Linked DNA regions of Homo sapiens: regions 1, 3, 4 and 5 are each linked to region 2. Evidence: fine-mapped expression QTL. A gene starts in region 2. Each other region holds a variant in brackets. All regions are shown on one strand. Distances are between the middles of the regions.

Region 1 (6,611 bases), 290 kb before region 2:
GAATGCATTTATTTGAAACATTGCATAGTAAAGAAGGCCTACTAGTTAGAGTCAGAACACCAGAATATGAGCAAAAGATCTAAAACATACTAGTGAAATAAACATGCACAAGTTAACTAAACTCTCTGGATCTCAACTGAATTATTTTTTCAATGAGAATAATTATGTCACAGTTTATAAAGATCAAATAAGAAAAATACTAAGTTTGCAAAAGCTTCCACTGTGCAAATATAACCTACTGAAAAACAAAATCAGCTTTTTCAAAAAATAAATACAACAAATCAAAATAAACTTTTGAGAAGGCATACAGTAGCTGAGTCATTCAGTAGGCATATGAACTTATACAAGTTAATTTCTGTAAAATGGAGATAAAAATAGTATCTAATCTCACAGGGATGTTGTGAAAATTAAATGAATGATTGCACACAAAGTGCTTAGAAGATGCCCTGTACGTAGTAAGCACGTAAAGGTTAGCTATTCTCACTATTATTATTATCATAATCTGTCTGGACTAACTTTTCCCCATTAATATTTATTATCCTTCTTCTGTACTGCAGGGCAGTGTACTCATGAAGTTGAAAAGTGCAAGAGGACTCCTAATAAACCTGAAAGTGACTCTGCTAATTTTGTTACACTACCTCTCATCCTTTGGGCCTTGGTGTCAATGTCACCTTCTCAGAAATGCCATTCCTTGAACAAGGGTGATCTAAAACCAACCATTCTCTCCCTTTATCCCTAATTACAATGCACTCTCTGTAATCTTTAATTATTTTACTTATTCTGTTGCATGGTTATTATATTCTGTCTCTTACCACAAATAAGCTCCATGAGAGTAAAACCATACCTGTGTCTAGTTCACTGTTGTGTTCCCATTATACTTCATGGACCCTAGCACACAGAAGATACCCAAGCAATGCTTGATGAATGAAAGAATGATCTTAATGGGTTACTATGCAGCCAAATTTGGAAATCTGAGACAAGAGGAAAGATGACTACTATGGTACAGATGTGATAATCCACCGTTGAGAGCCCCAACACTGGCTTACTTCAACTAAGGGCAATAATATTTTCAAGGATCAGTCCTTAAATGTTGGTAGTTTTAATTGCCTTAGCCACCAAATACACAGAATCATGAAGTAAAGAAAATATTAAGTGGGAAAAGGAATTGGAATAGTATTGAACTGTCATGCCTATATGTATTAGTATGATTTGTCTTTGTTCTTCTAGTAAATAATTTAGAAAAAAAAGAAAACAGCCACTGAAAGTTCATGTGAGATTTACAGGCTAAAATACACCCACTGTACTCTTTACTCATGAAATTTTAAATATTTTGTTCAATCTTTGATATCATATTTGACAGGAAATACAGGTAAATTTTTTTTAAACTATCTAAAGATTGGCAGTCTGGAAGACAATATAACCTGAAAACCCTCTGTATCACATAGAAAATATATGATATCAAGTATTCTTTTCGAGTATTGCTGAAAAATCTAAAAAAAAAAAAAAAAAGAAGCAGCAACTCAAGTGCTGGGATCATAGTCACCTATAGAGAGCAGCCAGCAGCAGAGCACGGAGCATGTGACTGGAGGTTCGGTAGCACCTGCTGCATGGAAATCACCAGGGCCAGCAACTTCAGGAATTGTGGGAGCAGGAGCTGAAACTTTGACCTTGGGCTCGGAGAGGCCAAATTTGAGAATCCTCTGGAGTGCTGCAACTTCAGTTCAAGGGTAGACTAAAAAATATTGCTAGGATAGAAAGGTAATAAAGAAATATGTCTCTGATTGGGACCAGGGCAGAGTACAAAAATTCTCAGTTATCTCTACTGGGAATGTTTATATCTGTGACTTTACCTCATGTGGGTTGAAATCTGAATTTTTCAGTGTAGGTCAGGAATCTTACTACCCTGAAAATTAACATAAATATTAAGTAGTGTAGTCTGGATGAATGCTCCCCAAAGACAGGGTTCAAGGAATTACCACAATGAATTACAATTTTAATTTGCTGAGCTGCAAATTAAAACTGTACACACATGTAGAAACATCCCATCCTGGCTCAAAGTAATCAGAAAAAATAAACAGGAAGATTAGAACCTCAAGAACATGTGACTTGAAAGAATATATAAGTTTGTTTAAAATGATTAAAGATACAAAAGAAGAAATTAAAGTCCAAGAAGAGAACAAGAGTTCATAAAAAAGATTCTAATAACTCAAATAAAATTATTACATATATAAAATGTATATATATTATATACATGTACATATGGATATAAATACAACATGACAAAAATTTTGGACTTTAGCTCTCTCAGATAACAATATGTAAGATGTAGGAAGACTATCGAAACAAGACAAACAGTAAATAGTTTTAGATTAATGGATATTAGTCTACTTTTTACACTTTTAAAAATTCTATTTCTTACTACAATTTAGAAGTTATACACTTTCTTTCTCTTTAAAACCAATGTGGAGGTAGCTCTAATCCCTTAGCCTTTGCACTCTGGGCCCGTGATGGGAGTGGCAACATGGCAATATGTGAATTGCTTTTGGGGTCCTTCTCTTTTCTTGAAAGATTGTGCAGGTTTATAGTTAAATAGATCTATTGGCCCATCCAGAAAATCCAAGAAGTTTGACAGCTTTCCTTCATTGTCTATTTCTTCATTTCCTTTAGACCCAGCTGGTTGCTCCTGGCATAATCCAATCTCTGTTCCTGATTTCTGCTAAGAAGGATTAGGTCCCTGGTTCACATTCACACAAATCTCCTCATCAAATGATTGTACAGCCACACTCTTAATGTTCTCTTCAAAACAACCTTTCTCGTTATTTGCACTATCAGTAGGCTGAAAAATATCCATATCTTCCAAGTTGTGGTATACTTATGCTTAATAATTTCTGTTCAGTTTATCTCTCTCCTTTAGATTTAACCAAGCAATCAGGAGAAATCAAGCCATTCCTGTAATGCTTGCTTAGAAATTTCAACCAACTTCATCACTCACAAGTTCTATCTTCTACAAAACACTAGAACACAATTCAGCCAATCCAAGGTTTTTTTAAAAAAAATATTTTATC[A/G]TAAGGATTGCTTTTCCTCTAGTTTCCAGTAGCATGTTCCTCATTTCCATGTGAAACCTCAGTAGAATCACCCTTAACCTACGTATTTCCAGCATGCACCTCAAAAATCTTCTAGCTATTACCCAATTCCAAAGCCACTTCCACATTTGATGTGTTACTGCAGCACCCTGTTCTTGGCACCAAAATCTATTAGTTTGCTTGGGCTGTCAAAACAAACCACCAGACTGGGTTGCTAAAAGAACAGAAATTTACTTTCTCACAGTTCTAGAGGGCTAGCCATCTAAGATCAGGGTGTCAGCACAGTCAGCTTCTAGCAGCAGATCGCTTCCTGGCTTGCAGATGCCAGGTGTCTTGTTGTGTCCTATTATGGAAGAGAGAGTAGAATCGGGTGTCTCTTATTATTATTATTAGGACACTAACCACATGATGAGGGCCCACAGGACCTCCTTTAACTCTAACTACTTCCCAAAGGCCCCATCTCCCAACACCATCAAACCAGGAGTTAGGGTTTCAACATGAATTTTGGAGGAACACAATTCAGTCTGTAGCAATAATACAACTCTTGAAACCAATTTTGTTATTTAAACAAACATTGAGAGATAATCAATAAAATAACTCATCCATTCATATATAAATGAATGATAAAGGTTACTCTGTTTTCGCTAAATATAGATATTATTTCAGGAGAGAGCTTTTTAGAAGATACACTAAACAGCATGTATAACTCCACAAAAATTTCATGTGATATCCGTCTTAGTTTGCTGTCTATTTCTACAACAGAATACCACAAACTAGCCAATTTATAAGAATAGAGTTTTATTTAGCTCATGGTTTGGGAGGCTAGGAAGTCTAAGAGCATGGTTCCGGCATCTGGTGAAGGCCTTATTGCCAGGTCATGACATGGCAGAGAGCATTACATGGTGAAAGGGCAAGAGTGTGCCAGTCAGCTCAGGTTTCTCTTCCTCCTGTTATAAAGCTACCAGTTCCATCATAGGGACCCTGCTGATGACCTTATGTAATCCTAATTACCCTACCTCTAATCAACATAAGAATTTAGGGATTAAGTTTCCAACACATAAAACTTGGAGGACATATTGAAACCACAGCAAAATCTGTCAGCTGAAGTTTTATACATATTTAGTGCCTACTATAAAACATTCAACAGACTTTCTAAAAAGTGTGCTATGGGTAATGGCCACATTTTCTTTGATAATATGATTCTGGTAGTTTGTCTCTGTGAGCTAATACTGTTTGAGTCTTTAGGATGACACATATGTTACTAGAAAGAGGTATCCACAGCCATAATACACTTAAGTAATATTATTGGAACAAAAAAAGAGAGCATTTACATCCTGTTAGTCTTAAGATTTGGGACTAATTTTCATGTTTCAATTAAATTATGAGTAACACCTTTAAGTCAAAAATCTGATCATTCAAACTGGAAGAGTAAGTCAATATAGTCTGCCTTACCCTATTTCTATCCCTTGATGTTCACTTTTGCAATACAGATTTTAATATGTAAGGAGAAAAAATACATTGTTTTAATCAGAAACAAATTTTAAGAAAATTTACCTTAAATATATTCTAACGAATTAAGTTTAATAATAAATGAGATTGAGGGAGGGAAGCAGAGCAAAATGGCCAAACAGAACTCCAGTGACTTTCTTCCCTCAGAAGCATCAAATTCAACAATTATCCAGGGAAGAAAGCACCTTCCTAAGAACCAAAATTCAGGTAAGCAATCAGGCAAACCAGGTTAAAAGCTGGTTTTAACATCATAGCAAAGAAAGAGGCACTGAAGAGGGTAGAAAAGAGAGTCTTGCATTGCCTACATCATCCTTCCCTCATTCCCCAGCAGTGCTACACTGAGCCGAGAGAGAATCTGTGTGCTTGGGGGACAGAGCAAAGTCCTGTCACAGCGGAACACAACACAAGGCGGAATTCTGCTGGTGCCCAGAGAAGGTGCATTTAAACTATCCCCGCCCTAGAGGAGTCCTTCACCCCACTGGTAGGAAACTGACTTCCAGCAAGCTCCACTACCAGCTAACTAAAGTGTCCTGCAGTACTGAATAAATATGAAAGGCAATAATAAAATCTGCGGTCCTTGGGCAAGTCTGGGTGCTGTGCTGGGCTTGGAGCCAGTTGAACTGAAGTGCACATAACCCACTGAGACATCAGTTGTGGTAGTAAAGAGAGTGTTTACATCACCCCTCCCTTTACTCCAGGCAGGGAAGCTCAGTGAGAGACTCCTGATTGCAGAAAGGAGAAGGAAGAGTAAAGAGTACTTTGTCTTGCAACTTGGGTAAAAGCTCTGCCACAGTAAAATAAATCACCAAGCAGATCTCTGAAGCCCCAGATTCCAGGCCCTAGCTCCTGTACGGCATTTCTAGACCCACCCTGGGCCAGAAGAGAACCTGCTGCACTGCAAAGAAGAACCCAGTTCTGGCACGATTCATTACCTGCTGACTAAAGAGCCCTTGGACCTCAAATAAACATCAGTGGCAGCCAGGCACTAGTTGCCAAAGGCCTTGGGCAATAACCACTATGTTGCTAGCTTCAGGAGTGACCTAGCACAGCCTCAGCAGTGGTGGACATCGAAGTGACTCAGTCACCCCTCTCCCAACTCCAGGCAACCCAGCATGGAAGGAGAGACTCCTTTTGTTTGGGGCAAAGTGAGGGAAGAGAATGACAGTCTCTGTCTGGCAATCCAGGGAATTCTCCTGGATCTTACCTAAGCCCACCAAGGTGGTACAAGTCTGCAAGAATCACAGTGTTACCGGGATTAGGGTATCCCCTAGCGGATTTGTGGCTTCAGTGACCCAAGACTTAGGTCATAACACTCAATTCCTTTGAATATCTAGAAAGCCTTCACAAGAAGGATGAGCACAAAAAAGCCCAGAATCCAAAGATTAGGATAAATACCTAACACTTTCATGCCCAGACACCAGCAAACATCCACAAGCAACAAAAACACTCGGGAAAACATGACCTCAATAAATGAACTAAATAAGGCACCAGTAACCAATCCCAGGGTGACAGAGATATGTGACCTTTCAGACAGAGAATTCAAAATCACTGTTTTAAGGAAGCTCAATGAACCAAGAAAACACAGAGAAAAAATTCAGAATCCTATCAGAGATATTTAACAAAAATATTGAAATAATTTTTAAAAACCAATCAGATATTTTGGAGCTGAACGATTCAATTGACAAACTGAAAAACGCATTAGAGTCTCTCAACAGCAGACTTGATCAAGGAGAAGAAAGACTAGTGAGCTTAAAGATGGGCTATTTAAAAATACACAGGAGAATAATTCACGTATCAGAGGGTGATAGAATTAAACCAAATAAGAGATTTAACCCAAAGAAGACTACCTCAAGGCACTTAATAATCAAAATCCCAAAGGTCAAGGATAAAGAAAGGATCCTAAGAGCAGAAAAAGAAAATAAATAACGTATAAAAGAGCTCTAATACAGCAGACTTCTCAGTGGAAACCTTACAGGCCAGGAAAGAGGGACATGACATATTCAAAGTGCTAAAGAAAAG
Region 2 (6,611 bases):
CTACTTATGACCATGGACTAATTAGCAGTGTTCTTTTTCCTAAACTGTATGTTTCAAGCCTTGTTGGGTTCTGAAATTAATTTAGATCTGGACAGCATTTTTTAAAGGAATAGAACTGAAAAAATATCAGCCCACACAGTATTAGGGCATGTATTCTTTCTGAAAATATATGTTTGTATATGTGTGTACTTACTAGATTGAGATACAAAATTTTACTTCGAGTTGTAATTTTCAGCAGTTTTAATGCTATGTATTCTTGGGTACTGTGATCTCTAGCTGAATAAATAAGCGGGAGAGTATACTTTAAAAGATATAAAAGTGAATATTTAATCACCTAAATGCTTTTTACAAAACAATTGGGAGTTCAATTACTATTTTTCCCCAAGATTCCCGAAGAGCAGGAGTCTGATTTGACTAAGATTTTTATGGTGCGGGATACTGCCTACAATTATATAAGAGTATTAATATTACAAAATCTAAGAGATCATCATTCTAGACTATTATGACCATCTCTGTATTCTTACATTTGCCAAGAGTATGTCAATCATTTTCCTAGTCTATATATGTCCGAGGTCACAAAAGCCAACACCATGTTTGGAGCCACATTTTTAAAGAATGTAAGTATTTGTGGGAAGAGGTTCATCAGGCTGTTTCCAATAGACTGACTTCCTTAACCAAGTCGGTCATAAAAAAGTATCTTAGCTCTTTAGCCAGCTAAAGGCCTAACTATGTGGGGAGGCAGAAGTGGGAGGAAAGAGTGCGGAAAATATGCCAAAGAGTGTCTTAGATTAGGACTCAGAGTATCAAAGGCCTTTATCATGGGTTCACATCTTAAAACTCCCCAAAGGGTGAGGTCTGCAGATGACAAATGCTTCAATTCATTGTTGTCATTTATTTATCCCTTTGCTCCTTATCCAACGAAGAACAGAAAAATGGTAAAACGAAAAGAGGGCACCATATTAAATGTCCCAACCTTGTTTAACCAAAGGCACATTCAATTTGAAGATGGTCCCATTTTTACACCCTTCACTCAGTCAGCAAGGACCTATAAAATGGGCAAAAGAATCCAACAGAACAAACTATGAGAGAATGAATTTCTGTAATCCCAGCACTTTGGAAGGCCAAGGCTGGCGGACCACGAGGTCAGGAGATCGAGACTGTCCTGGCTAACACGGTGAAACCCCATCTCTACTAAAAATACAAAAAATTAGCCAGGCGTGGTGGCGGACACCTGTAGTCCCAGCTATTCGGGAGGCTGAGGCTGGAGAATGGCGTGAACCCGGGAGGCGGAGCTTGCAGTGAGCTGAGACTGCACCACTGCACTCCAGCCTGGGCGACAGAGAATGAATTTCATGAACTGTTTTATTAAACTGATGATACTGTTCACAAAGTTACTTTGATGTTCAGCAGCTCCTAATTGGTTTCTAAGTTGAAGACAGAGTGACTTAAAGATCTACTGTTCAGTGAGTTTCCCACATCCAATCTCCCAACCCTATCTAAAGGTTCTGGTAAAATCAAAAGAGATGATGGTAAGGATGCAAAACTAAAGGAAAATTCAATCTCTTTGAACATGAGTATAGTCAAGTCCATCCTTACAAAAACTCTACAAACAGGAAAGTAATTTTAATGCAATTGATTTAGCAAATGTTTTTCACTGGCAAGATCACATGAAAATGTGATTTCTCACTCAAGGACCGCGGAATTACCATAGCTGGTTAATAAACAAGTACCAAGCATCATCTATTGTTAAGTTCCCGGCTCTGAGACTTTCTAAACGTTACTCGTCTGTGTTTACAACTTAAGTTTGACTGGGTAAAAACAAAGCCAAGTGTGGGTTTGAAATTTTAAAAACAGGCTCCTTCATCGATGGATTTTACTCTAACCGAAGTGTTTACACTTTCCTGTTCATTTCAACTAGTGGACTGCATGTCACTCCTGGGCCCCCGGCAGGTATCAGCTACCGTCACCACCAAGAACTTGGGCTTGGGGGGGAAGCGGAGAGGATGCGACTGCGAGTATCCAAGTGACCAAAACCAAACCCGGGCGCGGAGGCGAAGCCTGTCTGGCCGCAGTTCGGAAAGGGGCAGGGGCCCGGGTTTGGGGAGCCGGGCGCAGCCGCGTCCCTCCAGCCCCCGGCCGCGAGCGAAGCAGGGTGTGCATCTGCCAGGGAGCGTCGCTGGGCGGGGTAGGTCCCAAGGCAGAGGGAGAAAGGCGCGCCTCCCCACGGGTCCCGGCCCCGCTGTGGTGGGGAAAGGGGGACTGCGAGACTCCTCGATACCTGACACAGGGCCAACTCCTCCTTTAGGCTGCTCAGCTCTTCCTCCAGCAGCTGCGTCCGGGTCACCATCGCCTCCTCTACCGAGATGCCCTCTAGCCGTCTGGACCCCATGGGCGCGCTGAGGAGGGGAGCATGAGCCGGAGCTGCCCCCCCAGGCCCTCGCCGGCCCCCTGACCCTTCTTCACCCACCCAGATTTTATCACTTTCGTCCGCGACCACCTCCCGCGCTGCGCCGGCAAAACCCGAGGCCTCGCTGCGCATTGCGTGTACTTCAGCTCCCCGCCCAACACGTGGGGACCTGGGGCCCAGCTGTCGCGCTGGGGGCGAAGGGTGCGGTGAGGGAGGCGAACGCGCCGCCATGGCTGCGGCTGCTAACGGGTCAAGTTCCCTGTTGGAAACTCCACCTCCCTTTCCCCAACCCGGCGAGCCCGGAACGCCGAACCGCGCATGCGCGAGGCTTTTCCCGCCTTGGCCCGCGGTGTCCCGTGTTCTCTGGTCCTGGCCGGCTTCCCGCGGGCAATGCGCCCAGCGCGAGCCTTGGGGTACGCACGCGCCGTGGCCCGAAAGGGTAAGGCCGGTCCGCCGGGCAGGCCATCCCAGCGTCCTGTGCCTGAGTCCTTGGCCAGGATCGCCTGGATTTCCCGCCCACCTAAAGCCCTGCCTGCCACTTACATCCCACCTCTTAAAGCCTTCCTTGACAAGCCCCCAGCCCCAAATGATCCTTAACTGTGAAATCCCTCTCCTTCAAGGCCCCTGCCAACTCGTGTGACACGTTTCATTGACCGCCCTGGAGTGTCAGTTACACGGCTAATCTCCCCAGCCCTGTTGTAAGCTCCTTGAGGATCAAGGAATACGTTTTACACTTAAGTGTTTTCTTCACACCCCTTGGCAAAACTGCTTTAGTACAGCTGACATCCAGCTGACTAATGTCAAGGAGATGTGGAAAGCCTTGTGCTGATCTGGGACTATCAAGCAGGTTTCCAACTTGAATGATGATCCTTTGTACACCCTTTGTCTTTTGTTTTGCAGGAGTCATGATTTCCTTTGAGTTTTTATGTCAGCTTCTTTATGCGTTGGCTGGATATCAGAGGAAGTGTAGCCCACATTGCTGAACAGTTTGGGTCCTTGGAGCAGTTTGAAATCAGTAATTTGGAGCGTGGATGAAGAAACAAGACCTACTTTATCTTTTGTTCTCTTTTTTTTCTTTTTCTTCTGGCTTTCTTTATAAACTTCAAATAGGTAGTAATCGTATCTTTCTTTGCCCTTCAAATACTTTGTTACTATTGATAAGATTAATGAGATGCATATTGAGCTGGCACCAGAACATCCCTGAAAGTTAGAACTGCCCTCTTCTTCAGAAAGGGTTCCAGAATACTTGGGGAAAGCTGAGATGGGGGTTGAGAGCAGAAGTAGAGAGATGACCACTTTACTGTTAACTTCATTTAACCAAAATATCACCATCTCTGCATGAGAATCTAGTCAGGATGCCAAAAGACACCCTCCCAATTAGAATCCTGCCAAGGCAACCAAGATAAGTGGACTTCTTTCAAACTGAAGGTGAATTCCTCACAAAAACTTATTAAAGAGTACATTAGAAAAAGTATGTTTATAAGCCTGTCTTAGAACTAGCTAACCTACTGAACATTTACCATATGCTGAGTCCAGTGCTAAGCACTTTTCATATATGAACTCACTTAATACATATGTCACCTTCAATTAGATTATTATATATCTCCATTTTTACTAGTGAGGAAACAGACTTGCAAGGTTACTGTAACTTCTCTGAAGTGCCATGTCTGGTATCAGAAAAGCTAGGCTTTGAATTCACTGAATTCCACTTAACTCTGAAAACCTGTACTTTGATCGCTACCCTGTCTCCACACCTGTGACTTGAAATACAACATTTGGTCTTGATAGTCTGTGAGATTTCACTAGACTTAAGACTGGGAAGTCTAACCACATAAGTTACGTGTTTGGCCCCAAATCAGTATTAATGCACATTTTTAATTGCTGTATGTCATTCACTCAAAAGGACATCATTTCACCTGATCATAAAAAGATCCTTTTGAAAAGCAGTGGTATAAATATGTATATGTGACCTCCCAAAAGGATAATATCCTGACTCTTTGACTAGGCATTTTTTTAAATTTTGTCTTTATTGGAGCAAAATACACAAAATACACAACATAAAATTTACCATCGTAGGCATTTTAAATGGCTACAAATAGGCCAGGCGTGGTAGCTCACGACTGCAATCCCAGCACTTTGGGAGGCCGAGGCTGGTGGATCACTTGAGACCAGGAGTTCGAGACCAGCCTGGACAACATAGTGAAACCCCGTCTCTGCTAAAAATACAAAAATTAGCTGGGAGTGGTGGTGCATTCCCGTAATCCCAGCTACTAGAGAGGCCACGGCAGGAGAATCATTGGAACACGGGAGGCAGAGGTTGCAAACAGCCAAGATCATACCACTGCACTCCAGCCTGGGTGATAAAGCAAGACTGTCTCAAAAAATAAATAAATAAATAAAATGGCTACAAATAAAAAACAATTCAGCAGCATTAACTACATTCACCATGTTAGGCAACCACCACCACTATCTGGTTCCAGAATATTTTCATCACCGGAGGCGGAAACCACATACCCACATTAGTCTCTCCACATTCTCACTGCCCCCGAGCCCCAAGCAACCATTAATTCCCTTTATGTCTCTACGGTTTTGCCTGTTTGGGATATTTCATATCAATGGAACCATATAATATGTGGCCTTTTGTGTCTGTTTTCTTTTATTAGCATAATGTTTTCAAGGTTCATCTATGTTATGGCATGTATTAGTACTTCATTCTTTTTTATAGCTGAAAATATACCATTGTATGGATATCCTCCATTTTGTTTATCCATTCATCTGTTAATGGACCTTTGGGTTCTTTCTGCCTTTTGCCTATTGTGAACAGAGCTGCTATAAACATTCACGTACAGGTTTTTGTCTGAACATTTATGTTCAATTTTTTGTTTATATACCTATGAGTAGAATGTCTAGGTCATATGTTTAATTTACTGAGGAATCACCAAACTCTTTTCCACAGTGGTTGTGTCATTTTACCTTCCCATAAGCAATGTATTAGCATTCTAATTTCTCATCATCCTCACCAACACTTATTTTTTGTTTTAGTTTTGTGTCATTTGCTTTTTTTAAATTATACTTTAAGTTCTAGGGTACATGTGCACAACGTGCAGGTTTGTTACATAGGTATAAATGTGCCATGTTGGTGTGCTGCACCCGTTAACTCATATTTACATTAGGTATATCTCCTAATGCTATCCCTCCCTCCTCCCCCCACCCGATGACAGGCCCCAGTGTGTAATGTTCCCCACCCTGTGTCCAAGTGTTCTCATTGTTCAATTCCCACCTATGAGTGAGAGCATGCGTTGTTGTTTGTTTTTTATGGCCAGTCTAGTGGGTGTAAAGTGCTGTCTCCTTGTGGTTTTCATTTGTATTTTTCCCCATGACTAATGACAATGAGCATATTTTCATGTATTTTTTGGACATTTGTTTCTCTTCTTTGGAGAAATATCTATTTATTCAAGTTCTTTGCTATTTTTTAATTGGGTTATTTGTCTTTTTGTTGTAGAGTTATAAAAGTTCTTTACTGGCAGACAATTTTTAAGAAAAGAAACGTGCACATTTCTAGAAGTATGCATAAGGAGTTCTTTCTTGTATTAGTTATTTGCTGAAATGACAGAAACGGATGAAATGTTAAATACAAACACTTATGACTCAGAAGGATAAGTTAAATATCTGCACTGCTATGTGAATAAAAATGTGCAAAACAATCAAGGTGTTTTTCCTGTTCAACTCTTTGTCCTAATATTTAAAAGTGATAGTGTCTGTTCTGAAGAAATACATAATGAAGTCTGCTGAGGATTAAGTATATTAGAATAGAGAAACACATAATTCTCTCAATATCATCACTGTATAGTCGAAATCTTGGGAAATAATGGAAGAAATGTGCCAATTAATATGGTACTTAAATTGCCTCTTTTACTTTAATTTTTAAAATTTATTTTTAACTTCTGTTTTAAAAGAGAAAAAATGTATTAGCCGTTTCTCAGCCTTTATGTTTCTTTGTTTCCAGAAAGAATGAAGAATTTTAAAACCCATGTATTTCTGCTTTACCAGTTTTGTGTAATCTTTATTTGGTCAGCATAATTTAATTAAGTTTTAAAACACTATTAGGTATTGGTAAGACCTCAAACATCTTAGATTTCTTTTCATATCATTTTAGGAATTTATCTCAGTTTTTAGTCTTTGCCATGTCCTAGAGATTTAAATC
Region 3 (6,611 bases), 200 kb before region 2:
TAGAAACACATTATAATTTTCATGTTTTAGAGCAGTTTAACTCTGAATGAATAAACATAAACTAAAACTTAATGTTTAAACTTAAGGCAAACTAAAATTATTAATTATAGCTTATTGTTAACTATACCCATAAACCCTATTTTGTTTTAGAACACACATAATCTAAACTGAACATTTATCTCCTTAAGAGTAATCTATATTATATGACAAAGAATCTGAGCTTCATGTGTACTGCATTCTAATCATGTGTAAAGCACTAGATTTACAGAATATCATAAAACTACTTGAGAATTATATGATTAAACTTCAAATAGGGCACAGCTTCAGGTAATTGTGAATGAAGAATGAAAGAGAAAAAAAACCCTCAATGTAGTCACACAAAATGGGTTCAATATGTATGAACAACTTGCATATTGAAAAAGAGATTTCACAAAGTATGAATTAGGAAGTATTAATATAAGCTCTCAAAGACTGGTCGATAACATACATGTTTCTTAAACATGGTAGAGTGCTCATTCAAATGTCACATGTTCTGAGACAAATTCAGCTGAAATGAAAAAATATATATATATTTCATTTTGACTAAATGTAATTTTTCTATAAAGGATAATTGTAAGTGATCTGAGCTAGGTTAATATGCTTTTAAACTCACTTTCATTTACATATGTTTATCATATATAAAGAAGAAGAAATTCTCTTTTCACTTGCTACAATTCTATTTTTTGCCTTTGGGAAAGGGTTAAGAAATTTATTCCCAATTTTAAGACAAAATATTACCAAATAACTTGAAAGTAGTAAATAAACATTTACTTTTCAAGTAGCAAATATTTTATATTATTTTATCATCCTCAGAAATCTTAATAACAAGATGAACTGATTATACACTTTTATACAGGCAATTAAATTCAGGAAAGAAAAAGGACAACTAGTAATCTATGAACTGTATGTTTACTTTGGTATATTTTTATCTTTGCAAGGTTACTACTAAAGAAATGATTTAATGTTCACCTTTAGTTGTAGTGCCTTCTCTAAGTTTTCAATCTTTCTTTCAGCTTTTCTCAGCTTCTGTAGCTCTTCTGAGTCTGTGAAAGAGCTCTTTGGGGACAAAGACCTTGAACGTTTCACAGGTGGTTCCTCGAGAATAAAACAAGGACATGGTTGAACTAGTTGGAACACTGGATTATGAAAGACATGCAAAATTAAAGAACAAGTAATTTTGAATACTAATAATGAATTATAAAAAAAAAAAAAATCCTGCATGGAATACCAGAGAAATAACAAGCGGAATTACCACAGTGCTACCGCTAAAGGTTTCTCTGTGACTCGTTAATGAGAATATTCATTTACATTTACATTGTTTCTTTCAGAATAATGATGTCCCATTAGGGAAGACTAAAGGGTTATAGACTCAGAAATGCAAGAAACCTCATTACAAAGGAGGGGATAGAGGCTGGTCTAATTGCTCTATAAGGGTCCAAGGTTACACTTGATAGGACAACCAGAAACAAGAGGGAAAGGATTTTTTTCCCTTTGAAATAGTTTAACACACTGTGAAGTTGAAGGAACAATATGCTTGAGGAATATAAATACAACAGACAGTAGATCTTATACCATAATGACCATATGGTCATTAACTATAATGTGGCTAACTAGAGACAAGAATACGTTTATATTATGTACAGCTTCATATACCAATCTGGAGAAAGAATATGTGAAAGCAACTATTAAGCTGGGCAACACAGTGCTCATCCTTACTGCATGGCCTTACAAAAAGAAAGAAAATTTTGGCCATAATACCCCTCTCTTTTTCTTGACTTTTATTAAAGGCAGAAAAAAGTCAAAGTCATACATTTTTAAATTTCAGCAATCGAGCAAGCAACCAAATTAGGCCCGGTAATGCTGTATTTCAATTTTATGAATGTTTTCTTTCATTTAAATAAAGTTCAGTGCTTGTGAAACTACTTCAAAATGGCAAGAAATGTATAATGCAGTTATGTTTTAATAAATAAATCTCATTTTCTGAAAATTACTAATAATTTCAGAGAGCATGAATAACAGTACCACAGAAACATGGTTCAAATTTTAAATACTTCCTTTATTAAGATAGTTTGTCCTACCCATAAGAAAAAATGGAAAGAAACAAAAACAATTATCTTAACAACATGGCTTCCTATTATAAAAACTATTATTCCTTTATTGCTGAAGTAACAAGCGTGTGAAAAATATGCTAAAACTCTTACTCTGAGGAAAATGTTATTTCAATTTATCTAGAAATAATGTATGTACTACATGATATTTTAGAATTTTTATATTAGTCAACATTCTGTAGAATCTTTTACAGCGTAACACAACTATGTAATGAATACTAAAAAAAATTGAGACATTAATAAACGAGAAACATGTAAAATTTGCTTATTTTTCTCTTAATGCTATCCCTTTAAATCTATAAAAATATATAACAAGTGCAGAAGTTAGTGTTAAAATTCATTTACTATTTTATTTTCCACACAGACAGTATTTTAAACATCATATCTGATTGAAAGACATATTAGATATATTTTTCTTTTAATTCAAATTAGAAAAGTGAGTAAATACCATTTAAAAATAAATTTTTAATCAGATAGATTAATATATGAGAGAGATGAGGAATACTTACCAAAGTTTTAATATAAGAATGTTAATTTACTGACAAAATGGGTATAGCACTAATAATATATTTAATTAACTAATTTGGGAATATAACTCAGTCTTTAAAAAGGGAAAACTCCTTACTCCTAAAACTTATTTAACAAGAGTTCGGTACATAATATTTTTCAAAAGTTTCCCGAAATACAAGCAGAGAAGTAAATGCTGCCATTTGTTTTTTAACTTCATCTCTTGTCTTTCCAGCCTCATCCTGGCAAATTCACAAAATGACAAAATGTCCCTACCTTATGTTTTCCTTCAGCACTTGTCATGATGCTCTTTCGGGAGAAACCCTTGTTGGCAGATATGTTTTCTGACAGTTTTTCATTTGCTATCTTTAGTTTCTCCTGTAAATACTCAATTTCAGACTTCTGTGAAACCATTAACGTTTCTAAGCTTGATAAGGATGGGCGATGAGGTACCTATTTTAAAAAGTATAATTGTAAATAGATATCTATGTTTGTATCTTACATTATTTATAAATAAATAGTTAAATGTAACACTATATTATAGAAATTGTAAATATTCAGAGAAGGAAATTTTCCTTTTAATAATAAACTAGCAGGAGCTGAACCTTTTCATTCCATAGAATAGTATTTTCCAATAAAATAACCAAGAGTCTATATGCAAGTATTTTCATAAATAATGCTGTCATATAGATTTCAAGGAAAAAAATTTAAAGCATGGCTGCATGATACACACCACTCATCTATAAATGAGTCATTTCAAATTTCTGATTATACACATATGTATTGCCTCACAAAACAGTCAATCCACCATCTGGTCATCAAGAGTCATACAATACCATAGAATATAAACCTGGGAAAAGGAAAACAACAGCATTATAAGTACAATCAGCTTTTACTGTAAACTAATTTAATAACAACTCCTCAAAGAACCCTGACAATTTTAAGTCAATATAGTTTACAGCATTCTCCTTTGAAATTTATTCATGTTTCAGATAAACTGCTAATGGTAAGCTCCACATTTTAACAACAGAAGTCACAGGAAAACTAATCTTGTAGGAAACCTGTTCATGAAAACTGGAATTCTGCAAAATTTGACTACCATCTCCACTGAATGTATT[T/C]GAGGCCATTAAAACCCATGCAAATTCGCTGTTTCAAATTAACAACTACATTTACAAAAACAAAAACACAGAATCACATGAAAACAGTTTTTGTTGACTTACAGGCAAACAAATGTCAAATCTTATGATTCTAACATTATCAATAAGGATCTAGTAGCCCTGAAAATATTTGCACTTAAACTGATGAAGGGCCCCATCCTTCCTAAATGATATTCCTAAGTACTATGAGAAAAATATATACGGTTAACTTTTTTGAACCAACAATGGGAAACATCATCCTTTTCCAATTGTGCCTGCTTTTTTCTTTTTTGAGAGGATACGCAAAATTTTCCTAATTCTAACCTGCAATTTGTATAATGAGAGGGACCATATTTGATTTATACTATTACACTTTTCTCATATTTAAATCACCTCATTTGTTTCCAACCTTTATTCTACCATATGATTATCTTCCTCAAAGTATTGTTTACATTGTACTGTTACCATACTTACAATATATTACTTATTTCATTATCTTGCTTTGAACATCAAATTAAAATATTTTAAGCATTTCTCTTCCAGGAAGTCTAAATGATTTTGCCCTATTCTTTTATCCCCATTTTAATCGTTGTACAACTTTTATTTTTTATCTTTTCTCCTGTTTTATAGTCAAACTTCTGAGGTTTAGAAATATTTCCTTTGGTTGGGCTGCCAAGCTAAACTATTTCAAAGGCTACCTGCTCTTGTCTAGGTTTCCTTTAATAAAATTATAAATGTTATATTAACATCCTATCATATACAAAATAAATTTTAAATAATTTGTTTAAGGTCAAACAAAAACTTAGAATAAAATCAGAAAAACATAATTTTAGTTTATTGGTATATCCAACAAGCAAACTTGTGTTCGTCAATAAATGAACTTCCTAAGTCATCAATGGATTATAATGCTATAGCTAGGAATATTATAAAATTAATATTCAGTCAAGAAGCTATGATAAATAACTCAAATATAAGACATTAACAATGCTCCAACAGTGGATACTGTCACTATAATAATGGATTCATTTTTAATATTTCTACTGATATTATATTAATGATATTAATATTTTTGATAACAATAAAGGATATTTAGGCAGCATTCCTTCAAAATTCCTCAATAAAAAATCAGAGAACTTCACAATTAAAATACTATCAAAGAGTGAATAGAAGCCAGGAAGATAATGCAGATAAATAAATATGTGTTTTAAAGTAATAGCTTTAAAATTCATCCAACAGAGGCATTTTGCATACATATTAACCAAGTAGATATGTTCCTCCCCTTCACAAAGTAACTTATTCATGTTCCCATTTTCTTTAAGTCTGGTTTGTCTCTCTCTTGCCTTTTATCACTTTTGTTACAGACATGTTTACAAGAAGTGTTTTACATTTCTCCTAATAAAACCATTTTTTTAAGTATTAAATATGAGCAAAATGAAGTGTCAACACTCAGCCCCACTGCTGAGTGGTAAGGAGGGAATTCAGGGCAGTTGCCGCTCAACTCCAGCCAATTGTTTTCAGGGAAGAATGTGCCCCACTGTTGCTAGATTTACTGATTTTTCACGAAAAGCAAAGAATTAGGATTTCTAAGGAGAGTGTCCAAATTTTCAAATGTTGGTTGGACCCAGTTTATGGGTTACTTTGAGAATGTGGTAGTGGGTAGAAGTATAATCTGCTATCAATTTTCTAGAGAAATTATGAAAGATGCATCAAAGCTCATAAAAATGTACCAAACCTTTAATTTACTTCTAATTATGCTGAAGGCTAAAATGGAAAGATATCTATGATAAACTGAGAAAAGTAGGGTACAAAAGGGTATATTATATGTAGAAATAGATTTCACCAAACATGCATAAGGTACAAAAACAACCCTGAAATGTTACAGTGTGATTTCTAAGTAGAGGGACTGTAATATGAATTATTTTCTTTGTACTTACCTGAATTTCCTTAAAGATTTTACAATGGACATGTCACTAAATGCTTTTTTTTTTCTTTTTTGAGACGGAGTTTCACTTTTGTTGCCCAGGCTGGAGTGCAATGGTGCAATCTCGGCTCACTGCAACCTCTGCCTCCTGAATTCAAGCAATTCTCCTGCCTCAGCCTCCTGAGTAGCTGGGATTACAGGCATCTGCCACCATGCCCAGCTACTTTTGTATTTTTAGTAGAGAAGGGGTTTCACCATGTTGATCAGGCTGGTCTCGAACTCCTGACCTCAGGTGATCCACCTGCCTCGGCCTCCCAAAGGGTTGGGATTACAGGCATAAGCCACTGCACCCGGCCTAAATGCTTTTCAAAATAGAAATATTTATTTTTTTGCAAATAAAATGACTATGAGTTCAATGTAAAAATTTCAGTATAGGTAAGGGAAATATAAATAAAAGTCTCTTCACAATCTCATCCCTCAAAGTTCCTACTAGTAAGTTTGTGATATATCTCTCAGACTTTGAAAAAAAAAAAAAAAAGGAAACAGCTGGGTGCGGTGGCTCATGCCTGTAATCCCAGCACTTCGGGAGGCCGAGAAGAGCGGATCACGAGGTCAGGAGATCGAGACCATCCTGGCTAACACGGTGAAACCCCGTCTCACTGTGGCAGACGCCTGTAGTCCCAGCTACTCGGGAGGCTGAGGCAGGAGGATGGCCGTGAACCTGGGAGGCGGAGTTTGCAGCGACCCAAGATTGCGCCACTGCCCTCCAGCCTGGGCAAGAGTGAGACTCCATCTCAAAAAAAAAAAAAAAAAAGGTTAACTACTATATTTTTGTCATTTAACATACTTTTTAAAAATTAATAGACTTTATTTTTTACAACAGTTTTTTTATGTAAAGAA
Region 4 (6,611 bases), 270 kb before region 2:
CCTCCACCTCCAGGGTTCAAGCGATTCTCCTGCCTCAGCCTCCCGAGTAGCTGGGATTACAGGTGCCCACCACGATGCCTGGCTAATTTTTTGTATTTTTAGGAGAGATGGGGTTTCACCATGTTGGTCAGGCTGGTCTCGAACTCCTGACCTCAGGTAATCCACCTACCTCAGCCTCCCAAAGTGCTGGGATTACAGGCGTGAGCCACCACGCCCAGCCTCCCTGGTCAGTCTTGAATGTGTTTCAGCTTATCATGATGGAGCATCATGTCCAGAATTCAGTTTCATCTTCCTGGGACACTATGAGAGGTACTGAGTAAAACTCTTGGTAGATGCAGACTAAAAGTGTGTAAGCTTCTCTGGCGTATACATCATACTATAGACTCAAGTAAGATTTAACAAAACCACCTAAAGTATTTCAAATAAGATTTAACAAAACCACCCAGACAACTATTAAAGCCACATATTTCTCCCATTGTACAGTGCAACTGGTATTTTATAGCCAAATAAACTACCCTGTAGGCATTTGTGTAACTATATTCCCAGTCTACTGAGATCTTTGGGGATCTTGATTCTATTGTGTGACGTATTTTACATCCCTCTCAACGTCATGTTAATCACAATTTGATAAACATGCTTTGATGGAATTCAGATGTTCTGTATTTAGTGTAATTCTATTTTAAAAGGTTACTGGTTAGTCTGATAAGAATTTCCCTTGAAGAACTCATACTGGCTTTGAGAAATCACTACTTCTTTTAAGAAACATTCACAAAGTATTCTTTTATAATGTCCCAGAACCTTACTTAGGATTTATTTCAAAAACACCAACTATAGAATTACCCATCTTTGTGTTTTTAATGTCACAACTACACTTTTCTGTTTCCCATATTCTCATATCATTTGGGTTCTCCTTCAAAATACCAACAGCAATTGATCAAATCTACAAGTTATTTCAGTATCCCAGAATTCATTATTTCTGAATCAGAATACTATAATCTATTTGCTTATGTGTTCTACTATAATTGTTTACCTCTTTTTATGTTCTATTCCTCTTTTTTGTTTGGCCAAAACTTAGCAGAAATTCAATATGTAATGGCCAAAGTGGTATGAAAAGTGTCATAAAAAGCAGCATATTTCACAATAAGACACTCTCAAAACAAACTGTTTAGATTTGATTGGAGAGCCCTTGGTGGGGGGTGGGCAGGGGCAGAAGGAGGGAGACGTGTCTTAGTGATGGGGCAGAGTGCTTCCTTCTCTTTATAATTCTTTATTCATTCATTATTCAAAAAACATTTATTGAATGGCTACTATGCCCTATGCATGTGAAAGAATTGATGAACAAATTCTTTACAGTCTATCCATGAATAAATTTAGTCTATCCACGAAGAAAACAATAAGCACAATAAATCTGAAATATGATATAGTATGTTATAAATTATTAAGGACCACTGGGGAAAAAATGAGCAAGATAAGAGGAAGGAATCCAAATTATGGGAGGTAAAATGGTGGCAGGCTGAAATCTGAAATAGATTGATCATTAGTAATACTGAAGCAAAACTTAGAGGAGAGGGAGTTGGTTGTTTTAGATATCTGGCTAAATACATTCCAGGCAGAAGACATCAAACTAAAATCCCTAAGTTAAAAGTTCCTGCTTTCAGCGAGCAACAGTCAGTCCAGTGTAGGTAGAACACAGTAAATATGGACTAAAAACAAGGCTGAAAGCAGGGAGGGTGGTTAGGAAAGTTCTTTTCATATTCCAGGCAACTGATGATAGATATAAGAGTGATGACAAACAAAATTGATAAGAAATGGTCAACTTCTGGATATTTTTCTAAAGAAATCCACCAAGATTTCCTGACAGAGTAGATGTAATGACTGACAGAAAGACTGGAATCAAAGATGGTATCAAGCTTTTGGTCAGTGCAACTGTAAAGATAGAATTATCATTAGTGAGAAAGAGGAAGACAGCAGCTGAAATAGGCTTGGTGGGGTAAAGCCCAGGAATTTGTATTAGGCTATTTGATATCCAAGTATGATGCTAAGTTGACAGTCAACTTTACATGTCTAAAATTCAGAGCCTGACCAACATGGAGAAACCCCATCTCTACTAAAAATACAAAATTAGCTGGGTGTGGTGGCACATGCCTGTAATCCCAGCTACTCTGGAGAATCGCTTGAACCCAGGGGACAGAGGATGCAGTGAGCTGAGATCACGCCACTGCACTCCAGCCAGGGCAACAGGAGCAAAACTCCATCTAAAAAAATAAAAATAATAATAATAAAATAAAATTCAGAAGTGAGGTATAGAATGGATACATACATTTTGGGGTGGCTGGAATATAGGTGGTAACAATGATGTTAATAAATACTATGAGATCACAAAACAATGAGTGCAGCTTTTAATGTGTCCTCCAAAGTTCACATCTTGGAAACACAATCCTCAGTGCAACAGTGTTGGGAGGTGGAATCTAATAAGAGGTGATTAGATCATGAGTCCTCATGAACGATTTAATGTTATCATGGGAGTGAGTTTGTTATAAGAACAGGCTTGTTATAAAAGCAAATTTGGCCCCCTCTTGCTCTATCAGGCTCCTTGCCGTTCCACCTTCGGCCATGATGACACAGCCAGAAGACCCTCATCAAATGTGGCGCTCTCAACCTGGGACTTCCCAGCTTCCGGAACTGTAAGAAATAAATTTCCTTTCATTATAAGTTATCCAGTCTGTGGTATTTTTTTGTGTGTGTTGTTATAGCAACACAAAATGTCCACTGACTGAAGACAATGTCCAATGACTGAAGCTCTTAAAAATTGAGAGACTGAGGGGGAATGTCACAAAACTAACAAATGACACTGAAGTTAAATATCAGTGAGAAGAAGAAAATAAAGAGTATGGTATGGCAAACTATAATAACAAGAGGTAGAAATCAACTGTGTCAAATGCTGCTGAGAGGTCAAGTAAGGTGAGGACTGAGAATCAACCTTTGAATTTGGCAAAGTGGTAGTGACCCTCAAAATAATTGTTTTAGGCTGGGCGCGGTGGCTCACATCTGTAATCCCAGCACTTTGGGAGGCCGAGGTGGGCAGACTGCCTGACGTCAGGAGTTCAAGACCAGCCTGGCTAACATGGTGAAACCCCATTTCTACTAAAAATACAAGAATTAGCCTGGGGTGGTGGCGTACACCTGTAGTCCCAGCTACTCAGGAGGCTGAGGCAGGAGAATCGTTTGCGCCCAGGAGGTGGAGCCTGCAGTGAGCCAAGATCGCGCCACTGTACTCCAGCCTGGCAGACAGAGCAAGACTCTGTCTCAAAAAAAAAAAAAAAAATTTGTTTCAGAAGGATGATGAAGGGATGAATGGAATTTGAAACAAGGATTGTACACAACTTTTTAAAATTTCACTGCCAAGGACAGCAAATACAGAGGACTACTAGGTAAAGGAGTACTAACAGGTGTATAATGAATTCTCTGGTTTCCAAACATGGTCCTCCTAATTTTACCTCAATAATTGGGATAATTGCTCTGGCTAATACCGTAGCTCCTTTTGACGCTTTTTAGCTCAGTATAGGGAATCCAAAATGGCCAGGGTACAATCTCAGC[G/A]TCTACCTCTACAGACCATAATTGTGTTCCCTCAAAGAACTTTCCTACCTTCGGCATCAGGACTCTCAAATCCCCTAGCCCAAGATCATACTAATGAGAAGCAAAAACTCCTCCAGTGGGTTACTTGGTTAAATAATTACAGCGGCCACGCCAACCTAAAATACTTTATTCCTGGACCTATGCATTCTTGGAGATAAAATAATAAACTCTCAGTTTAGGGCATATACCCTAACTTCAATATTGTCTTCTAGCTGGTGCCATAACGGAGCCTATTGATCATCTACTGTCGTATACAGCCAGTTGCCTTTGAATAATGAAAAATATAGTAATACCAGTGAATTTGAAGACACAGAGCATTGTCATATATCCCTTGCCATAAACTCTGTCTTTTAGCTGGGCTTGGTGGCTCATACCTGTAATTCCAGCACTTTGGGAGGCTGAGGCAGGTGAATCACCTGAGGTCAGGAGTTTATGACCAGTCTGGCCAAAATAGTGAAACCCCATCTCTATTAAAAATACAAAAATTAGCCGGGTGTTGTGGCACACATCTCTAGCCCCAGCTACTTGGGAGGCTGAAGCACGAGAATCGCTTGAACCCGCGAAGCAGAGGTTGCAGTGAGCCAGGATCACACCACTGCACTCCAGTCTGGGCAACAGAGCGAGACTCTGTCTCAAACTAAGAAGAAAATGTGTCTTTCAGTCTGCTTCTCTGGGAAAATGCTGACTAGGCCACCTCCCTACCTCCCAGTCCTACCTCCAAGGTTGAGATCAAGATTGAGCAAGTGCATCCAAGGAGGCAGTTTTCTGCAATATCATAGGGATATATAAGTCATTTTGTAAATCTAAGAATGGTAATATTGGTAAAAATATAATAGACAAAACCATACCTAAAATACTTAAAACTACTGTAAAAAAAAAAAATTGATGCCTCCTCCATGATGGAAGAGGCCTACTGTAATCAACCTGACACTAAGAGACTGGTTGGTTTCCTCTGGAGAATGAAGCTTTTTTTTGGGATTTGCAATTGGTCTTTTTTGTGAACAGGCTGAATATTCAACAGTGCCAGTAGCCCAGTCGCCAGACAAGTTTTGGTGAAAGAAAGTCAATTTTGTTCAAAAGCTTGCAAGGAAAAATTGGAAGATTAGTGGCAGGACACCTGTGCCATGTAGAAGCTATACCTGTTGCCATAGCCACTTTGTTCATGAACCCATTAAGCAAGCCCTCAGATAGCTGTGAAATAGGCAAGATCTATACAATGGGTCATTTTGTTCACAGAATGGGCTTTGTGTGTATCTCTTCCAAAAGGTCCATCCACGAACCTCCCCACAGACCTTCCTGCCACCAATCTTCCACCAACCTTCCCACAGACCTCCCTGTCACCAATCTTCCAACTTTTCCTTCCAAGTTTTTGATATACTGAAAAATGCCTCTTTTGACGCACTCCCTCAACATTGATCTCAATCTTCACTACTTTTTTTGGAGTGGGAGTGGGAAGTAGAGAGGTGGATTAGTCAGGGTTTTTCTGGAGAAATGGAACCAACAGGATGTATGCATGCACGTATATATCTTTAGGAATTGGTTCATGTGATTGTGAAGGCTAGGAAGTCCAAATCTACAGTATGGCCCAGTAGGCTAGAGACTCAGGAGAACTAATGGTGTAGCTTCAGTCCAATTGCCAGCAGGTGGAAACCCAGGAAAGTCAATTTTCTAGTTCTAGTGTGAAGTCTGGCAGGCTAGAGACCCAGGAGAGCTGATGGTGCAGATTAAATCTGAAGGCAATTTTCTGGAGAATTCCCTCTTGCTCACAGAGGCCATTCTTTATATTCTATTCAGGCCTTCAACAGACTAAATGAGGTTTATCTCCATGCTGGAGGACAATGTGCTTTATCCAAAGCTCACTGATTTAAATGTTAATCTCATCCAAAAACACATAACAAGTTGATACATAACCAACAGAGGGGGCTACTGTCCCTATAATTCAGTTTCTTTTCACAGTGTCATCCCCTCCATGTGGGACTTAGTTCAGTGAGGAAGTTCTGGTCTTTTGGTATAGATAGCTCATAGAAGAACTGTATTTTTCTTTTCTCCGGACACCAATTTTCTCTCTCTTGATACAGTGCAAGTCATACAGCTGTCGATGGCTGTCCCTACCTGTTCATATTTTGGGTTTGTCACTAATTCTATTGTAGATGCTATCCTTGAGATTTTGGCTATGCCTTCCTATTTGTTTTGTTTATTTTGATGGGGGATTTGTGGAAATAAAATATCTGCCACTGCTGCAGCCTCTTCCCAGTAGTACTAGCTTTTTGAATAGAGAACAGTTGTCAACAGAAATCGCATAGCCTTAGGTGTCTATATGTGGTTCTTGTCATGCTTGTCAGGCATTCCACATACCACCTCTGTCTGCTACAGACATATTCATAATCTTTGGTTCACTGAGTCATCTCCTCAAGCCATTAATATTTCCTGTCCATAGCACTGCCCATTTTCTATTGATGCGTCTTTTTATATAATTTGTAGATGATCTTTAAATCTTCTGGATATTAGTCCTTTACCTTCTTTATGTGTTGTAAATACCTTTTTCTGGTTAGTCATTTGACTTTTAACTCTTTTTATATATCTGTTACTATATAGATGTTTAAAGTTCTATTAACGCTTTTTCATATCTGGCTCTGTATTTTCATCTCTTGCTTAAGTATACTTCCTAGAGATGCTCCAAAGTTATAAACAAGTAATCTTGTAATTTCTTGTAATACTTTTAAAATTTTCATTGTTTCATTAAACCTCTAATCTAGGCCAAGCACAATGGCTTGCATCTGTAATCCAAATACTTTCTGAGGCCAAGGCAGGAGGATCACTTGAGACCAGAAGTTCAAAACCAGCCTAGGCAATGTAGCAAGATCTCATCTCTACAAAAAATTTGAAAAATTAGCCAGGCACGGTAGCACGTGCTGTAGTCTCAGCTCCTAAGGAGACTGAGGTAGAAGGTAGCTCGAGCTCAGGAAGTCGAGGAT
Region 5 (6,611 bases), 300 kb before region 2:
CACGTTTTGACTCCTTTTTCACTTTCTTCATGTATCTTCTATAGGTATTTTCTTCGTGATCACCATGGAGCTTACATAAAATATATTGTTTATAACAATCTTTTAAGCTCATAACAACATAACTTCAATCACATACAAAATATTCATACGTTTACTTCTCACATGTAATTTGGTGAAACAAATTACATCTTTTTATATTATGTATTCATTATCATATTTTTAGTTATGTTTTTTAATACCTATTATTGTAATTTCTATGCCAGAATAAAAAGTGATTACACACCACTGTTTACCTTTACCAGTGACCTTTATACTTTCACATGCTTTTAAGTATTGCTGTTTAGCATCTTTTTGTTTCAACTTGAAGAACTCAGTTTAGTATTTCTTCTAAGAAAGGTCTAGTGGTGATGAAGTCCCTCTACTTTTGTTTGTCTGGGAAAGTCTCTTTCACTTTCATTTTTGAAGACAGTTTTGCCAGACATAATATTCTTGGTTGGCACGTTTTTATCTTTTAAAGGTGGTGTACACTTCTTTAAGTTTATTTCTTAAGGATGTTTTGTATATTTACAGAGTTGTGCAATTATCACCACACACTAATTGTAGAGTACTTCTAAAGAACCTCATGCCCATTTACAGAAACTCCTTTCCCATCCCTGGCTCTAGTCAACCACTGAATCCAATTTCTGTCTATGGATTTTGCCTTTTCTGGACATTTTATATAAGTAGAATCATACTGTATATGGTCTTTTATTATTAGCTTCTTCCACTCAGCAATATGCTTTCAAGGTTCATCCATATTGTAACATATGTTAGTATTTTATTCCTTTTTATTAATGAATGATAATCCACTGCATGGATACACCACAGTTTTTTCTCCATTCATAAGTTGATGGACCCATAGGTTGTTTCCCCTTTGGGCTACTATGAATAATGCTTCTATCAATTAATGTACAAGTTTTTTATGTGAACTTATGTTTTCAGTTCTTTTTTTTTTTTTTGAGACGGAGTCTCGCTCCGTCGCCCAGGCTGGAGTTCAGTGGTGTGATCTCGGCTCACTTCAAGCTCCGTCTCCCAGGTTCACGCCATTCTCCTGCCTCAGCCTCTCGAATAGCTGGGATTACAGGCGCCTGCCACTACGCCCGGCTCATTTTTTTTTTTTTTTTTTGTATTTTATTTTAGTAGAGAAGGGGTTTCACCCTGTTAGCCAGGATGGTCTCGATCTCCTGACCTCATGATCCACCCGCCTCGGCCTCCCAAAGTGCTGGGATTACAGGCTTGAGCCACCATGCCCGGCCGTGTTTTCAGTTCTCTTAAATGTATACCTGGGAGTGGAAATGGTAGGTTATTTGGTAACTCTATGTTTCACTTTGCGAGGATCTGTCAAACCATTTCCCAAAATGCCTGTGCCATTTTACATTCCCATAGCATTGTATGAAGGTTACAATTTCTCTATATCCTTATCAACACTTGTTAATGTTTGTCAACTTATTAGTCTCAGCGATCCAGCTTCTGGATTTGTTGATCATGTCTGCTGCATTTTTACTTTCTACAGTATCAACTTTGCCCTTATTTTAATATTTCTATTTTATTTGGGTGTCTTAGTTTGGGCTGCTATAATAAATTATCATAGACTGCATGGCTTAAATAACAAACATTTACTTATTATGATCTGGATGGTGGGAAGTCCAAGATTAAGTTGTGGATAGATCTGGTGTCTGGTGAGGCCATTCTTCCAAGTTGCCATATGGCAGAGAGCAGAGAGATCTCCTGTTTCTTCCTCTTTTTATAAGGGCATTAATCCCATCATGGGGGCCCCGCCCTCATGAACTAATGTAACCCTAACTAATTCTCAAAGGCTCCACTTTTGAAATGATCACATTGGGGGTTATGAATTATGGGGGAACACATATATTTAGTCTACAACACTGGGTTTATTCAATTTCTCATTCTTAAATAAAATGTTTAGCTCTGTGATTCTTAGACTTCTTCTAATCTTACTACAAGTATTTAAGGATATAAATTTCCATCTGAGTACCACCTTAGTCACATTCTAAAAGTTTCCATCTGTGTTATTTCATTGTGATTCAATCTAAAGTATTTTTCATTTTCATTTTGTTTTCTTCTTTGACCCATTAGTTTTTAGAAATGCCTCTATAAATTCGCATCAGATATTTTTAAGTTAACTTTTTAAAGTATTTTCTACTTCACTTGTGTTAGATAATACTATTTATATGATACAAATCCTTTGAAATTTATGGAATGTTGTTTTGTGGCCTAGTTATGTGAACATTTTTGATAAATACTTAGAGAAAGACTTTTTATTGCTCTGTTAAAATAATGTATATCTTTAATGACTTTTTATCAGCATTACTTAAAAGTACTGATATTATCAATACATGAATTATTTATTTTGAGCCTAAGTTATTAGATGTTTATATTTTAGAGGCTCTCTGCTCCCTTTTCCAGCAAATCTCCTCAAAATAACTCTAAAATGTATGCATATTTAATTATATCCTCCAATTCCTCTCTTTCTGTTCCCATTCCTCAATTCCTCCCATGAACTGATTCTAATAAGCAGCAGTTGGCATAGAGAATGATAAAGTATATCATTCCCTTCTTGATATACTTTAACCATTTGGCTTCTAAGATTCTCTTTTCTCTTGCTTTTCCCTTTCACTGGCTCTCCTTTCTGGTCCTTTCTCATCTGTCCAACTTCTGAATATTGGAGGGCCTAGAGCTCAGATCTTGGACCTTATCTCTTTTGTACCTATCTCCACGCCCTTGGTGATTTCATTCAGCTTCATTTTTAAATGCCATCTACATACTCATGGCTGCAAAATTTATATGTCTAGCCCAGGCTTATCCCCTAAATTTTAAACTCATATATCCTACTACTTACTTGATATTTCCAGTTCACTAACAAATTACCATTTGGCTACAAACGATAAGCTGTTGTTGATTTTAGATCCTAAGGATTTAGTTTCTTTTTAATTCTTTTTGCAAGTTCTAGTATGCATTTATGAGGCCCTTTTTAATATTTTATTCAACTTTCTTGGTATTTTCTCACCACAATATTTAGTGTATTACATTGTCACAAATACAATTCTTCTATCATCAACTTTCTACTCACTTTGTTAAAAACCTGAAAAATATCTTAAATACCTCTTTTTTCTTTACCTTCCTATATGCAATT[G/A]GTCATCAAACTTTTGGGATTATAACACTGCAAAGTCTCTTGTTTTTTAAAAAACTTTCTATTTCTACTAATATTGTCTAGATCTCTTCCTAATCATCTTTTGCCTTGATATTTAAACAATAATTTATCTAGTTGCTTGCATTCAATCTCTAGTCTCTCGAGCCTTAGTCTCAGTCCTTATTCTACATCAGAATCACCTGAGAGCTTTAAAAAACTACCAAGGTACAGGGCCTAACTCTTAGATATTCAAATTTAATTGGTCTACGGTCAGGCCTTGGCACAAGTATTTTTCAAAGTTCCCTAGGTGAGAATAATAAGTGGTCAGGGTTGAGAACCACAGCCAAACCAGATTATTCACTATTCTCAACAAACTGCTATGTCAGCTAGATGTCTTTTCAAGCTATCCTTTCTTCTAATGACTTTGTTCAATGCACACAACTTCCAAAATCATACAAAACCTTAAGGTTAAGCCCAAATACCACTCCTTCAAAAGCCTTAATCAAGAATGACAGGAACGAATAACTCTCTCTCTCCACATGCATTTAAACATCCATGTTATATATACACACACACACATATACATATATATCTCTATATCTCACAGTTTCCTTTTATTATTATACATATGTTCAACTGTGTTATTATCGGGGACAAGGTTCATATTTAATTCATTGTTGAATATTCCATTATTATAGCGCTTTACATGTGTTAGGTACATTAAACTAAATTGAATTGTAACAAACATACTTATCCATGTGCATACAAATATTCTAGTCATTTAAAACCAAACTCTAAAATATATGCACAGTTAAATAGTATATCAATTCAATAGTGATAAATATGCTACAATTTTTCACTTCCTGAAACATTGATATTGATGAGACACACCTATCTGAAAGTATGTTGATGTAAAAAATCAGGACACTACCAGAAATATAAAATTGTGCAATATATTATAACACTGCTTTATTTTAAACAGAAAAGAAATTTCTAACTGATGCTATTCAGGTCACATATTCTCATATTAATATTTTCTTTGGTAAGATAAGAAATGAATCTGAAAACAGAGTATAAGAAGTGCAATTTTATAGTATACAGTGTTCCAAGTGGTAATAATAGTTTCCTACAAAGTCTAATATAGGACACAGATATTCTGTTAACAAATACCACTTGCTTCATCTAGAATAGAAGACAGGACATAGGAATAAGACAGTCACGTCCAATTCCACATGGATTCTCAGCTCTGATCCTGGGTTTTGCACAGTTTGCCTTGCGAACATGATCCGAGTGACATTTCACAAATTCCTGGATAAATGTTGCTACACTCTGCTAGGAGAGAGACAGGCTATGTCACGCACAGATCAATAACCGCACTGTGTTTCATCAGCCTCAAAATCAAAAGTGCTTCATCTGGCAAAAGCCACGGCCCTAGAGAATCTGACGTATATAAAATGAATACCCTACAAGGAATGTGTACTACACAAACTATTGGGGTAAGGTAAAAGAAAACTCTGGAGATTAGCAATAAGGTACAAAAAGAGTAGTTTTCTACTTCATTATTACTAGCGGTGTGAACACAGATCACAAAAACGGAAATGAGGCTATTTAAAATTCTGCAATTCCTGACAGGAAAAAAACAATGGCTCTGGTACAGTTTAATACCTTTTATCTTTCAAATAAGAATTCTGTAAATAAATATAAACCAAGGACAAATATAAGTTTGGATACAGTAACAATCACATAACTCCAAATACAGAAATTTTTAAAATGAAGATCCACGAAATAAGGCCCTTTTAGTGTTAAAGGGTTGCTAAAGGTCTCTTCAGATTTAGTAGTTTTCATGCTCAATGTTTATATGCTAGATTAACTAGAAAACCCAAGGCATTTGTTGAATGGGCTGTGCTCTGCTGTTTTTAATTCCAAATTCTGACACTTAGCAAAAGTCTTTTATTTGAGGCTTGATTAAACTAATTTAAGATTATTTGGTTAATGTAATTGGACAACATATGAAGCAAATTTGAAAGCTCAAATTCTAAAAAGGAAACTGCTTTAAGATTGCCATTGCCGAAAAAGTTTCTGCAGCAAAACGTGCTTCTGCAGAATTTAGCTGGATCTGACTCAGACGGTAGGGGAATCAATAATTCATCAAGAAATCAGAGAAGATAATGATGTTTAATCATAAACTAAACAATAGTATATAATGTTTTCTATGAATATTGAGAAAATATGTAATATTTATCAAATTATGGTGTGGGCACTATAGAACATACAAAATTAGGTAAAGCATATTCTTGCTTTTAAATTGTTTATAATGTAAAAAGGTAAATAAATATCACAAAAGGAGGCTAGACCACCACTTGGATAAGAATAAGGAAATACATTTATTTGTTTCTCTTATATCCCCTAGCCTAGAGGCACAGCCACATTCTAATATAAAGATCTGGAAATACCAGCTGGGTGGACGAGGGCTAGGGAATTTGTTACCTTGACAGGTCAGATGGGAAGTGTGCCCGTAAAAAAGGAGCTACCCTGGCCGGGCACGATGGCTTACACGTGTAATCCTAGCACTTGGGGAGGCCAAGACGGGTGGATCACCTGAGGTCGGGTGTTTCAGACCAGCCTGGCCAACGTGGTGAAACCCTGTCTCTACTAAAAATACAAAAATTAGCCGGACGTGTTGGCATGCACCTGTAATCCCAGTTACTCAGGAGGCTGAAGCAGGAGAATCTCTTGAATCCGGGGTGGACAGAGGCTGCAGTGAGCCGAGATCGCGCCACTGCACTCCATCCTAGGCAATAAGAGCAAAACTCTGTCTCAAAGAAAAAAAAAAAAAAGAGCCACTCTTTGAGTACTCTCACTACCTTTCATAGTCTAAGGTCAAATTCCACTTCATATTTCAAAATGCTCCTCCTACCATCTTTTAATCATAGTCTTAACAGCCATTGTGACAGTGTGTTATCTTAAATAAAAGTTTAAAAGGTACCGTTTTTGGAGGGGTAGTTATACCACTGTAATGCAAATGCAGTATAAAAATAAATTCATAAAAATAACTAAGTCCAGAAAGCATTATTGGAACAGTAAGGGCTTTGTAGAAACTATAAAGCAGATGAGACCAGAATGAGTGCCTCTCTTTCCAAAAATATCTCTTAGAAACAAACAACAACCAAAAAACAAAACCACTGAATATTCCTAGTAGAACTCTAGGCACTAAGCTCCAGAACCGAGGTAAAGCAGGGCAGAAATAAGCCAAGAGTAATTGATTATTTAAAGACAGTTTTTCTAGTCTCGTACAGTCAGGAAGAAAAAATATTATCTTGCAATACAGAATACATTCTTAATAACTTGTTTTTGGAGAAGTCAAAATTTAAGTAATGGACTACTTTTAAAAGCCAACTTTTAATAATGAAAGACAAAAAAA

Alleles and levels. Alleles are on the strand shown, and positions count from the first base shown. SD is a standard deviation of normalised expression in the study named. Not every link is listed here.
For the expression in monocytes of the gene that starts at base 2,664 in region 2, allele A in region 4 goes with a lower level than allele G (moderate effect, 0.69 SD a copy in BLUEPRINT).

The links. PIP is the estimated chance that this variant, and not a neighbour inherited with it, causes the effect.
Region 1: its variant is the best candidate, but not a certain one, in a credible set for the expression of CNTLN in prefrontal cortex (GTEx, PIP 0.63).
Region 3: its variant is the best candidate, but not a certain one, in a credible set for the expression of CNTLN in whole blood (INTERVAL, PIP 0.67).
Region 4: its variant is the best candidate, but not a certain one, in a credible set for the expression of CNTLN in monocytes (BLUEPRINT, PIP 0.77).
Region 5: its variant is the best candidate, but not a certain one, in a credible set for the expression of CNTLN in whole blood (TOPMed, PIP 0.81).

Annotation. Positions count from the first base shown.
Region 1 is chr9:17,422,182-17,428,792 of GRCh38, reverse strand. All of the region lies in intron 18 of CNTLN (centlein), which reads right to left. Among named protein-coding and RNA genes, the nearest start is that of SH3GL2, 150 kb to the left of the region's middle. The variant A/G (reference allele first, on the strand shown) is at 3,066.
Region 2 is chr9:17,131,093-17,137,703 of GRCh38, reverse strand. It overlaps CNTLN (centlein), which reads right to left and starts at 2,664. Exons shown (of 26, transcript NM_017738.4): 1 at 2,279-2,664. The coding sequence starts at 2,638. RefSeq lists an enhancer at 1,820-2,383.
Region 3 is chr9:17,327,128-17,333,738 of GRCh38, reverse strand. CNTLN (centlein) reads right to left here. Exons shown (of 26, transcript NM_017738.4): 9 at 2,931-3,107; 10 at 1,009-1,134. Among named protein-coding and RNA genes, the nearest start is that of CNTLN, 200 kb to the right of the region's middle. RefSeq lists an enhancer at 1,069-1,715. The variant T/C (reference allele first, on the strand shown) is at 3,773.
Region 4 is chr9:17,401,453-17,408,063 of GRCh38, reverse strand. All of the region lies in intron 15 of CNTLN (centlein), which reads right to left. Among named protein-coding and RNA genes, the nearest start is that of SH3GL2, 170 kb to the left of the region's middle. The variant G/A (reference allele first, on the strand shown) is at 3,598.
Region 5 is chr9:17,434,976-17,441,586 of GRCh38, reverse strand. All of the region lies in intron 18 of CNTLN (centlein), which reads right to left. Among named protein-coding and RNA genes, the nearest start is that of SH3GL2, 140 kb to the left of the region's middle. The variant G/A (reference allele first, on the strand shown) is at 3,194.